3 linked regions of the Homo sapiens genome follow. The protein of the gene in region 1 interacts with the protein of each later gene in a biochemical or structural test. Each region holds a gene or a part of one and is shown in the gene's direction. Other genes may lie near its edges.

Evidence for each region.
Region 2: the proteins of SLC8A1 (region 1) and S100A12 interact in a biophysical measurement, tested with the Homo sapiens proteins (one large-scale study listed by IntAct).
Region 3: the proteins of SLC8A1 (region 1) and S100A13 interact in a biophysical measurement, tested with the Homo sapiens proteins (one large-scale study listed by IntAct).

Annotation. Positions count from the first base shown.
Region 1 is NC_000002.12:40,449,164-40,453,423, reverse strand, and holds the start of SLC8A1 (sodium/calcium exchanger 1 isoform A precursor), read left to right. Parts: upstream 1-1,333; 5' UTR 1,334-1,520; intron 1,521-1,739; exon of another isoform or gene 1,740-1,964; intron 1,965-4,260. UniProt on the Homo sapiens protein: Mediates the exchange of one Ca(2+) ion against three to four Na(+) ions across the cell membrane, and thereby contributes to the regulation of cytoplasmic Ca(2+) levels and Ca(2+)-dependent cellular processes.
Region 2 is NC_000001.11:153,373,180-153,377,119, reverse strand, and holds S100A12 (protein S100-A12), read left to right. Parts: upstream 1-1,498; 5' UTR 1,499-1,568; intron 1,569-2,507; 5' UTR 2,508-2,527; coding exon 2,528-2,665; intron 2,666-3,152; coding exon 3,153-3,293; 3' UTR 3,294-3,409; downstream 3,410-3,940. UniProt on the Homo sapiens protein: S100A12 is a calcium-, zinc- and copper-binding protein which plays a prominent role in the regulation of inflammatory processes and immune response.
Region 3 is NC_000001.11:153,618,232-153,621,482, reverse strand, and holds the end of S100A13 (protein S100-A13), read left to right. Parts: intron 1-2,444; coding exon 2,445-2,588; 3' UTR 2,589-2,684; downstream 2,685-3,251. UniProt on the Homo sapiens protein: Plays a role in the export of proteins that lack a signal peptide and are secreted by an alternative pathway. Binds two calcium ions per subunit. Binds one copper ion. Binding of one copper ion does not interfere with calcium binding.

The DNA of each region.
Region 1 (4,260 bases):
TGCCCTGGTTGCACTGTAAGTATGGGGGGACGTCTCCACGAAAAAAAACTAACTTTCTGCCTTGTGCTCTGCAGGTCCCTCCTTCTCCCACCTTCCCCAAGTAGCTGCTCCTGACCCCCCCACACACCTTGGCAAACGACACCAGTGGCCGATAGCAACTGGTGTTTTAAAAATACTAATTTGGAGCCCCATTTGAGACCTACAACGGGAGAGTCTGCATCAGATTCGGCCTCAGATTCTACAGCATCTGACTACATTCCCAGGTGTGTGTGATGCGCAGCCAGGTTTGGAAGCTAGTGAACTCCACAGTAGGTCTAGCCTTTCACCACGTGAAGTCATTAAGGGTTTGTAAGAATGAATGAGCTGTCAAGAGAGGAAAGGCCTGGTGCAGTGTTCCTTTATTAATTATGAGGAAAGTGATTTATTGGCAATGATAATGCTTCTCTTGGAAAGGGCAAAGAATGGTTCGTCGATTGCTGCATTAGGTTTTTTCCCACTCAACCTTAATGCTCGGCTTTTACTCCTCACTGTAGTTTAAAACCAGCACGCCTTTCACACGAAACAGACTCTGGGTCTTTATTCCCAGGTGAAACGCATCTTTGAGGGAAATACCAACACAGAGACTCTGTCCCAGTTCTTGGCCGGGGGACACCCTCCCCCGAATATCTCTGTTTGCTTGTGTCAGCATCTAGTAGCCAACGTATAGTTGTGCATATCTGATACGTAGAAAAACACAGGGTGAGGATTAAAAAAAAAATCATTGATATATGCCCAGATCCTTTTGCTAAAAGAAAGCTTCCTTTAGCAGAAGGGCAGGAAGTGAGGGAAGAAAGATAGTTGGATTAACAAAGTCAGAGGTGAGAAACGGGTAGGCGAATTGGGGGTCAGGGTTCTGTCTGCGGAAGAGAAGAAGAGGGTTCAAAAGAAAAGTTGCAGCGCCTGTGTGCGCGTGTCATCGATGGGCTGGGTGCGAGAGACAGCGCTAGCGCGCGGCCACAACGCACTGCGGGGCCGAGAGCCGGCAGGAAATCGAAAAAGCTGCTCGCCGGCAGAGGCTGGGAGGCTGGAAGGGCTCCCCACCCGCTCGGTGCTCCAGAAACGCGCCGGCTTTGCCCCGACGCGATCGCCTGGGGAGCCCAAGGGGCGCGCAGGGGGCCCCGGGGCGCCCGGCAGCCGCGGGGCCGAGCGCGCGTGTGAGCGAGTGCGAGGCTGCGGGCGGCGGGCGGGCGAGTGTGCGCGGGAGGGAGGGGGAGCGCGCGCGCGCCCGGGCCCCGGCCCTCCCAGCCTCCCGGCCTCCGCGCCTGCCTCCCGCCCGCGCGCACCGCTGCCCGCTGCCGCGGCTCCCGCTCGCGCCGGCGCTGCACGGTAGTCAGCCCGCCGCCGCCGCCTGCTTTGTGCTTCCCACAGAAGATGGGAGCGACCTCTTCCTGATCGGGAGCTGTTTAAAAGGAGGGAGTGCGCCGTATTTTCTACTAGCGTGGAGGAACGGAGGAAGAATCCATTCACACTCCCCAAACCAGGTAGGATCTTATGATGGACAGGCAGAAGGCATTTAGTCAGAGACCAAGAACTATTTTCCATTTGCTGCTCATAAGGCTACACTTCCCTCTGCTTTGGCAAACGAGCGGCTTCTAAATTTGTGTGTGTGTGTGTGTGTGTGTGTGTGTGTGTGTGTGTGTGTGTGTGATGTGGTGTGTGCGCGCCTGCACATTTTTCTGGGTGTCCGCGCTTCCCAGAGTGAAATTGCTCGGGCTGGTGCGTCTGGGCGTGAGGGTGCCTGCCTGCCTGCCAGTGCAGGCTGCCGGAGGAAGAAAGGGCTGCTAAGGAGAGATGCTGCACCCTGCACCGCGCTGGGCTCTGAGGATTCAGGGCGCGAAGAGCTAAGTCCACCCCGAATGCAGAGCTGCTGGGGATCCAGGCGTCCCCACCCACTGGACTCTTCTCCGCGGACATCCCTCCTTCCGGTAATCCCTGGGGTCTTTCCCCAAGGCCACATTTCCGAGCCCCCTGTTTTCCAGCGGGCGTTGGGTGCTCATTCACCACGGACTGCGGAGAGGAGGGAGGTGTGGCGGGGCAGAGACAGACGAGGAAGAAATGTAGGGGGTAGCAGGGAGTGGGCTGCGGGGTCCACGTCTCTGGGCACTGTGCCGTGGTGTGCTTTGGGGATTCTGCACACACAGGCATCTTTCCCCAAGAGATTGGAAGGGAACTTTGCAGCTGCATTCTCTGCCTCTGGAGCTTTGCTGGCTCTTGGGGGAAATGGTCTGTGTTCTGAGATGTGAAGATATCCTTTTTGGCTCCTCCTTAATGAAGAAGAGGGCGGTCTTATAGCTGGACAGCCGGCCAAAGAAACCAAATCCGCCCAGGCGATGCTCTTGAAAATACAGTACGTGTGCATCCTTGATTCTTTAAATCCACCCCCTGCATCACCCCCGCCTCTTCTCTATCCCCCCCACCACCCCGTGGATTCTGTTGCTGTTTGATGAATGGCTTGGGCTGGCAATTTGTATTTCCCTCTCCAAAGTGGTAGTGGTTGAGTTGAGAACAGGGGTGATGAAATTTAACAAAGCATTTTTAGAAGAGAGCAATGTGCATGTTGTACGCAGTCATTGGAAAGTCATGCTTTGCGCTAGGTATCCTTTTGAAGCCCCCGAACCTGGCTCTCCTGAAGCCGCTCTCTCTCTCTCCTGCTAGTCAGCTACTAGTGGTTGTGAATATAACAATACAAACTTTGTCCTGCTGGAGGTGTAAAGACTAAAAAGAGAAAAAAAGGATATCAGTGGGAGGTGTAGTGGAAGAAGCTTTTTAAAAAATGACAGATGTGGTGAAGACAGTACAAGCGTCCTGATCATGGAGGAGCCTCTAGCTGAGTAGGTGGAGATTTCTGATCAGATCTGGTTAAAGGCATTGCTGGAGTATCTCCAGATATGAGCAGTTGAACATGCACAATCTGAGACTTGTGCGAAGATTTCCCAAGGGAAAGAGGGAGCCACCAGGAGAGAATTCTGAAAGTATACCTCTCTTTCCCATGCCCCCACCAGCGCGCGCGCGTGCACACACACACACACACACTCACATGCTTTCTCTTTCTCTCTCAAAGCTACTCCTGCAGCGAGTCAGAAAAAAAAAGGAAAATGAATCTAGATGTTTCATTCATTTCAAATAAGAAGACAAAGCCGGAAGAGGGATGATTGGTTTTAGGTTCCTCTTTCAAATCCTGTGTTACTTGGATTGAGCTCCCTGGGTTTGCTAAACTTGCTTAATTGGGAGGTTAGGCGGGTGTGAAAGCAGGAGGAAGGAAGGGAAAACTAGCTCCATCTTTGGGGCCTTGTGAGTGAGAAGGTGGGGGAGGACCAACTTATTTCATCAAGAGGCAAGATGTGTGCTCTTAAATGGTTTTCGTTTTACAAATTCTGCCTGCTTGAAGAATTCCATTTGGATCTCACGGCTCTTTAGCTAAGATTTCTCACACCTGCTATAAAAGAAGCCCTGATTTTGTCCCCTTAAAATGGTTGTTGTCTTTTTTTAAAAAAATGATTAATTCCTAGAAAAACAACAGCAACAAAAAGGACTGAACAGAGATAAACCATTATTTATTGTTGAGCTGTATAGGGCTACAAAGGATGTAAGAGTGTCATGATAATCAGACTTTACTGTCTTGAAAGCTTAACAGGGCTGAAGGAGGAGAGTAATGAACTAAAATATGAAGGCTTATTTTCTATGTATCTATCTACCTATGTCTTTACTTTAATATTATTATATAGTGGTTCCTACTGTAACGTTTCAGATTAAGCACATAGCCCTTTTGTTGACCAGGGGAAGAAAAGAGCATGGGAGTAACAGTGCTTTGACTCCCAATAAAATTACAAATGGAAAGTGAGGTATAGTCAGTAACATCTATAGGACTATTTGCAGGAATTATGTTAATTGCTCTGTTAAGCTTTCTGTGTTTTGAAAAAATAAAATATATTCCAAGAGAACTTCAGCATCTGTTAAAAAGCTATGTTTAACATGCTTTTGCCAGGCAAATATAGACTTTTATTTACTTGCAAAATAAACACATGATTCCTCTTAGTATTCAATCTATTTCTTTGACAAAATAAATGATGAGAAAAGCTGTGCAGATCCAAGGAAGTTGCAATTCCCCTTTAAAAAGCCAGCCAAGGCATTCATTTAGCTCATAGATGTGGTTGTCTCAAAGTAAGTGCATTTTGGGACATTAATGTCTGTGTGTTTTTTTTTGTTGTTGTTTTTTGTTTT
Region 2 (3,940 bases), on another chromosome or scaffold:
ACAAATCCATATCTGATTGCTTCCTCTCCCCTATTTTTGTTATCTTATGTAAAAATGCAGATTCACTGAGCCAGATGAAGGCATAAGTGACTATTTCCTCTACTCCGCTCCCACATGAAAATTGTGTATTCAGTGAAAGATTGATCAAAGACTCAAAAGGATGCAATCACTTGTCTCTTATCTACTGACACATTTAAAAAATATTTCTTCCTCTTCCCCCAATATCCACTGTTTCTCCTTCAAATATTGAAGCCCTCAAAATCATCTTTGGAGAAAGACGTAGACCTACCTCTGGGCACGCATCCTTAACTTTGGCCAAATAAACCTCCTAAAATGATTGAGATTCACCTTGGTCATTGTCATTGATTTACACAAGCCTGATCATCCTGCTCTGGTGGTGTCCTCCTGGGCCTAGTGAAACAAATACTGTCAATGGCTTAACAATGTTGCACTGAGATTGTGTCAGTCAAGGTGACACATGGATCGGAGAGACAGACTTTTGCCTCCAGATCCAGAGAGGTCGGTGGGCACATGAAATGAACTAGCTTTGCTAAGGGGGATATCTGTGTTGTGGGGTAGATGGCAGCACAGGTTCTGGCATGGCCTTGATTGCTCAGCAATCTTATTGACCTCTAGGCATAAACCAAGGGCAGAGTGCTTTTGGATGTCCCTTAGCTTTGGTGCGACATGGGGAATGTACAGATGAGACTTAATCCATTTTGGGCAGGTTTCTGAATCTTGAAGGACCACCTCTCCATGAATCCTGGGCATCTGTTGTCCCTTGCTGCCTCTCTGTGAGTAATAAAGTTGCTTTACTAAAACTCGTGTGAATGTTCTGTCTTACTGAACTCATGAACATGGTAAAGTAACCTAGGCATGGTGAACTTTCTTCACACACAATGATTACCCTACTCCAGCTTTCTAGGTCTTTGTAACAGCCAAGTTAGAAAGTTGGGAAAGCAAAGGGGAGGCATAGTAGCATTGCTCTCTCCTTTTTTGAAAACCTTGGAATCTATTTTGAAAACTGATCCTCTGCTCCAGTGATGAACTTTGCATCCCAGAACGACTTAGGAGGAGGTCTCCCTACCTATCTCCTTAGCTGCATAAAGATCTTTAAGTTGATATTCCATTTGCCAAAACTGAAGAGCTGGTAACCTCATCTGTTAAAACAAGACACTCAGGCTGTAAAGTTTGTTCTCCTAGTCTTTTATTAGGGAGCAGTGGAGTAGAGCTAAACCTGAAACCTGGGCCCTGGCTCAGGGCTAAAAAAGGTTCAGGGCACCCCTGTGCGGGTGGGTGGAGTGGGGGTGATTTTGTTTCAGGCTGAGCAGGAGGGCAAAATTCAGTCTGGGTACAATCTGGGCTGCTCCTGTGGCAGCCTAAGCCACAGGTTTGAAGCTTCTATTGAGCAACAGAGTACTTTACATAAATTGCCTCAAGATGAATCAGAGATTTCTTCACCCAAGGGCTAAGATGAAGCCTGAACTGATTATAAAACCTTCCTTGGCTCAGTGCCCTTCACCACTGCTGGCTTTTTGCTGTAGCTCCACATTCCTGTGCATTGAGGGGTAAGTGCATTTTCCTTGGATGGGTTCTTAGGTGGTCCACAGGGTAGTGACTGCAGGTGACCACTTTGAAATCACAAGGTGTTGGAAACCACAACCCTCCACTTGCCTGAGCACCTCTGGGGTGATATTGCATTTTGGACCCAAGTAGATCAGCTCTTGTTGTGCTATGTAGACTCAGTCCCATGATTTAAGAATGGCTAAGCAGGCCGGGTACGGTGGCTCACGCCTGTAATCCCAGCACTTTGGGAGGCCGAGGCGGGCGGATCATGAGGTGAGGAGATCGAGACCATCCTGGCTAACATGGTGAAACCCCGTCTCTACTAAAAAAATACAAAAAATTAGCCGGGCGTGGTGGCGGGTGCCTGTAGTCCCAGCTACTCGGGAGGCTGGGGCAGGAGAATGGCGTGAACCCGGGAGGCAGAACTTGCAGTGAGCCGAGATCGCCCTACTGCACTCCAGCCTGGGCGGCAGAGTGAGACTCCGTCTCAAAAACAAACAAACAAACAAACAAAAAACCCAAAACAACAACAACAAAAAAAGAATGGCTAAGCAGGGGTGGGTTATGGACCATTTGTGGGGGATATGTGGCCATAGTGCCATCACCTGAGGAAAGCAAACAGCCTGGCCAATCACAGAACCCTTCCCAAGGGACCTTGAGTAAGCAATACCCTCCAAGTTATGCACCCCGGTGGATGAGGTGGTATGGAACATGGGCAACTGAGGCTGATTTTTTTAGACGTTAGACAGTATTATATGTTTTCTCCTCCCCATCCTATCCACACATGAGAAGTTCACCATGGATCAAACAGAGCAGAGACCACAAAATAGATATGGAGGATGTTATGTTTTCTTTAGGCCCTTGATTCAGAAAGAGAGGGGAGAGTGGAGGTTGAGGGGTGGGGGAGAAACTGCCTCTAGACTTCCCTTGTTTCCTTGAAGGTTAACATTAGGCTGGGAAGATGACAAAACTTGAAGAGCATCTGGAGGGAATTGTCAATATCTTCCACCAATACTCAGTTCGGAAGGGGCATTTTGACACCCTCTCTAAGGGTGAGCTGAAGCAGCTGCTTACAAAGGAGCTTGCAAACACCATCAAGGTAGGTGATGCCCCTCTCACTGCAAACTTGCCCATGACCCTGCACTGAGGGGAGTGGCAAGGCCTGGCAGAGGATGGTGGGACAAGGACTGGGGTGGGGTTGGCCCCAGTTTGAGCTCCCAAAGGATGCTCTCCCCGCTGCTGTGGGAGAGGTCCTTTGCTTCCCTCTCTCAATAACTCACTTAAGGCTCTACTCAGTTCCTCTCTCTGAGTCTGTTTCCTCATATGTAAAATGGAGAGAGGCAGGGCACGGGAGGGGTTGAATGAGTGAGCAGAAGAGTACCTTCCAGGTCAAGCCTTGTTAATTCCAGGGTGGTTCATGACCATTGTGTTCTCTGTTTTGTTACACTGGATTCTCCAACACAGTGTTGGCTAATGAGTTAATGTGCCTGGGCCTTCACAACCCGAGCTCTGAGGGATAAGAGGCCTAAGAAAGGGTCTTGTGTGGAGGTTCTGAACTCAAGGTCTCTGTTGTCCTTTTTTCCTAGAATATCAAAGATAAAGCTGTCATTGATGAAATATTCCAAGGCCTGGATGCTAATCAAGATGAACAGGTCGACTTTCAAGAATTCATATCCCTGGTAGCCATTGCGCTGAAGGCTGCCCATTACCACACCCACAAAGAGTAGGTAGCTCTCTGAAGGCTTTTTACCCAGCAATGTCCTCAATGAGGGTCTTTTCTTTCCCTCACCAAAACCCAGCCTTGCCCGTGGGGAGTAAGAGTTAATAAACACACTCACGAAAAGTTCTGAATAGTGTCTGTGAACTTTTTTCTTTCCATGCCTGCGGTTCCCAAACTTGATCACACCTTACCCCTGCTCTTCTGGCAGTCTGATTTAGATCCCTTAGAACTCCTGCCCCATTTGTTCATTTGATCACCAATTATTTATTTATCGAATTATTTATTGAATGTCCACCATTCATTCATTCATTCACTCACTCAACAAATATTCTCTGAGCATCAGAGACCAAAGACACAAAGTCCTTGTCCTCTTAGAGCTTGCATATTATTTGGGAGAGAATAGAAAATAAATAAATAGACAAGCAAATAAAAATATATTGTATGGCTGGCCATCATGGCATGTGCCTGTAGTTCCAGTACTCAGGAGGCTGGGGCGAGAGGATTGCTTGAGTCCAAGAGTTTGAGGCCGTAGTGTGCTATGATTACACTTGTGAATAGCTATTGCATTCCAGCCTGGGCAACATAGAAAGATCCTGTCTTTAAACACATATATATATACACACACATATATATATGTCTTTAAACATATATATA
Region 3 (3,251 bases), on another chromosome or scaffold:
TTTATAATGTTAAAAAGAATCCTGTAGGCCGGGCGTGGTGGCTCATGCCTGTAATCCCAGACCTTTTGGAGGCTGAGGTGGGTGGATCACCTGAGGTCAGGAGTTTGAGACTAGCCTGGCAAACATGGTGAAACCCCATCTCTACTAAAAATAGAAAAATTAGCAAGGCGTGGTGGTGGGTGCCTATAATCCCAGCTCCTCGGGAGGCTGAGGCAGGAGAATTGCTTGAACCCAGAAGGTGGGGGTTGCAGTGAGCTGAGATCATACTACTGCACGCCAGCCTGGGCGACAGAGTAAGACTCCATCTCAAAAAAAAAAAAAAATCCTGTAGATAGTTTAATTGGGATCATATAAAAGATATATTTTAGGGAAAATCAACATTTTTAGCTGATTGAGCCTTTCTCTTTAAGAAAAATATATGTTTATTCCATTTTCTATTTATTCAAGGTTTTTTTTAATATCCCTGTGGTATAATATGAAATATATAGTTGTCATTTTGTATCCATGGGAATTGTTCCCAGAACCCCCTTGGATGCCAAAATCCTTGGATGCTCAATTACCTTTTTTTGTCCTTTTCTTGTAGAGATGGGTGTCTCACAATGTTGCCCTGGCTGGTCTTGAACTCCTGGGCTCAAGCGATCCTCTCACCTTGGCCTCCCCAAAGTGCTGAGATTGCAGGTGTGAGCCACCATGCCTGGCCTCAAATCCCTTATATAAAATCAGATAGTACTTGCATATAACCTATGCACATCCTCCTGTATACTTTAAATTACAAGTAACTCTAGGTTACTTGTAATACATAATGCAGTGCCTACTCATCACTTCATTCACATGGATTCAACTTAGTACTTAGCATGGGGCAAAATTTAAGTTTTGCTTTTTGGAACTTTGTGGATTTTTTTCTTCAAATATTTTTGGTTCTAGGTTGGTTGAATCCAGGGCTGTGGAACCCACTGATACTGGTATGGTATTTGGTATTTGGCCTTTGTTTTGTTTCTGTCACAGCTCTTTTTTTTTTTTTTTTTAGATAGTCTCACTCTGTCACCCAGGCTGGAGGGCAGTGGCTTGATCTCGGCTCACTACAGCCTCTGCCTCCCACACTCAAGCGATTCTTCTGATTCAGCCTCCCAAGTAGTTGGGACTACGGGTGTGCACTATCACACCGAGCTAATTTTTGTATTTTTTTTTCTTTTTTTGAGACAGAGTCCCACTCTGTAGCCCAGACTGGAGTGCAATGGCGCGATCTCTGCTCACCACAACCTCCGCCTCCCAGGTTCAAGCAATTCTCCTGTCTCAGCCTACCGAGTAGCTGGGATTACAGGCTCCCACCACCATATCTGGCTAATTTTTGTATTTTTAGTAGAGGCAGGGTTTCACCATGTTGGCCAGGCTGGTCTCAAACTCCTGACCTCAAGTGATCCGCCCACCTCAGCCTCCCAAAGCGTTGAGATTACAGGCGTGAGCCACCGCACCCTTCCTGCTTCTTCTTTCTTAATACTTATTTATTTCTCTTTACTGATTGAATGCACCCCCAATATAATGTTACAGTAGCCATCCTTGCCTTCCACTGGCAGTGCTTATAGTATTTTATAATTAAACGTGGTTGTAACTTAAAAAAAAGTCTTTTTTAGTTCTTCTGTGAATCAGCTTTGTTCCCTTTAGAGATTCAGTGAGTCTTCTCTGTCTGCATCCAAATGTTGGTTCAAACCTTGAGCCTCACACCCTGCCTGAGGCACCCTTCTCTGGTTTGATGTTGAACTATTGTTCAACAGTCAACTTTTTGGTTGTGCTTGTTTATCTGGCAACAGGTCCTTCGATCAGGACATCCAGTTTACTGTTGCCATTGATTTCACAGGCCTATGAGAGATACCCTGTCAAGGGCCCCTAAAAACCCAGATACTCCATGCCCTTGCCATTCCCCTGATCTAGTGACCCAGCTGGATAAATGAAAAGACACAAGGGTTGTGCAAATGAGCAGCTAAGTACTGGGAGCTTCTCCAGCTTTCTGAGAAAGAGGAGGGTGGCCCCAGAAGGCTCTGACTGGGTCCAACCCTGCAGCATCTCCCTGAGATGCTGGCATTCCTTGGGCCGATCCCACAGCAGCTGCAGTGGTGTGCTGGTGAGAGAAGATTGTGTGGATTTCTTTCCAGCTTTGTATTCAGCGACAACCTGTTTGTGGTTTGTAAGCAGCCATCGTGGAAGTATTTACACAACGGCAAGCACTAGGACTCAGGCCCCCCCACCTTTCTCTGCTGGTGCTCCTTGGAGAGGCACCCCGTGGCGGTGCAGTTTTGGGGCTGCAGCCTCCTTCTTTAGAGAAGGGGCAGGTGCCACTGCTCTCTGAGGGAAGGGCCTTGAGAGAATAGCAGCTGACAGTTCTTCCCTCCCTACTTTCTCAAGAACCCCAGTTTCTAACTCTACCCTTCCCTTTGGTGTCTCCTCAGGATGTGGGCTCTCTTGATGAGAAGATGAAGAGCTTGGATGTGAATCAGGACTCGGAGCTCAAGTTCAATGAGTACTGGAGATTGATTGGGGAGCTGGCCAAGGAAATCAGGAAGAAGAAAGACCTGAAGATCAGGAAGAAGTAAAGCCGCCTGGCTGAGATGGGGTGGGCAGGGCAGAGCTGATCAGGGCCGAGCAGAACCGCACTCTTCCCAAATAAAGCTTCCTCCTTGAAACACAAATGTTTCTTACTTACACCCCATCCTGATTTCTTTTCTTGAGACCAGAGAGTGGGAAAGCTCTCTCTTGACCTGAGGATGGATCTGAAAATTATGAGCCCCTTGAGGACAGGGAATGTTATTCATCTTTGAATTCCGCAGCATCTAGCACCAGGTCTTGTACAGAGCAGGTGCCCAATAAATGGTTGAATGAATATATGAAAAGTAGAGGCAGAGGGCTGGGCACAGTGGCTCACGCCTGTAATCCTAGCACTTTGGGAGGCTGAGGTGGGTGGATCACTTGAGGTCAGGAGTTCGAGACCAGCTTGGCCAACATGGCTAAACCTCATCTCTATTAAAAATACAAAAATTAGCTGGGCTGGTGCCTGTAATCCCAGCTACTCAGGAGGCTGAGGCAGGAGAATCACTTGAACCCAGGAGGAGGAGTTTGCAGTGAGCCGAGATCGCACCATTGCACTCCAGCCTGGGCGATAGGAGCAAAACTCCATCTCAAAAACAAAAAACAAAACAAAACAAAAAGAAAAAAGAAAAGTAGGGGCAGAGATGTGGGGCAGGAGAGGTGACTCGGGC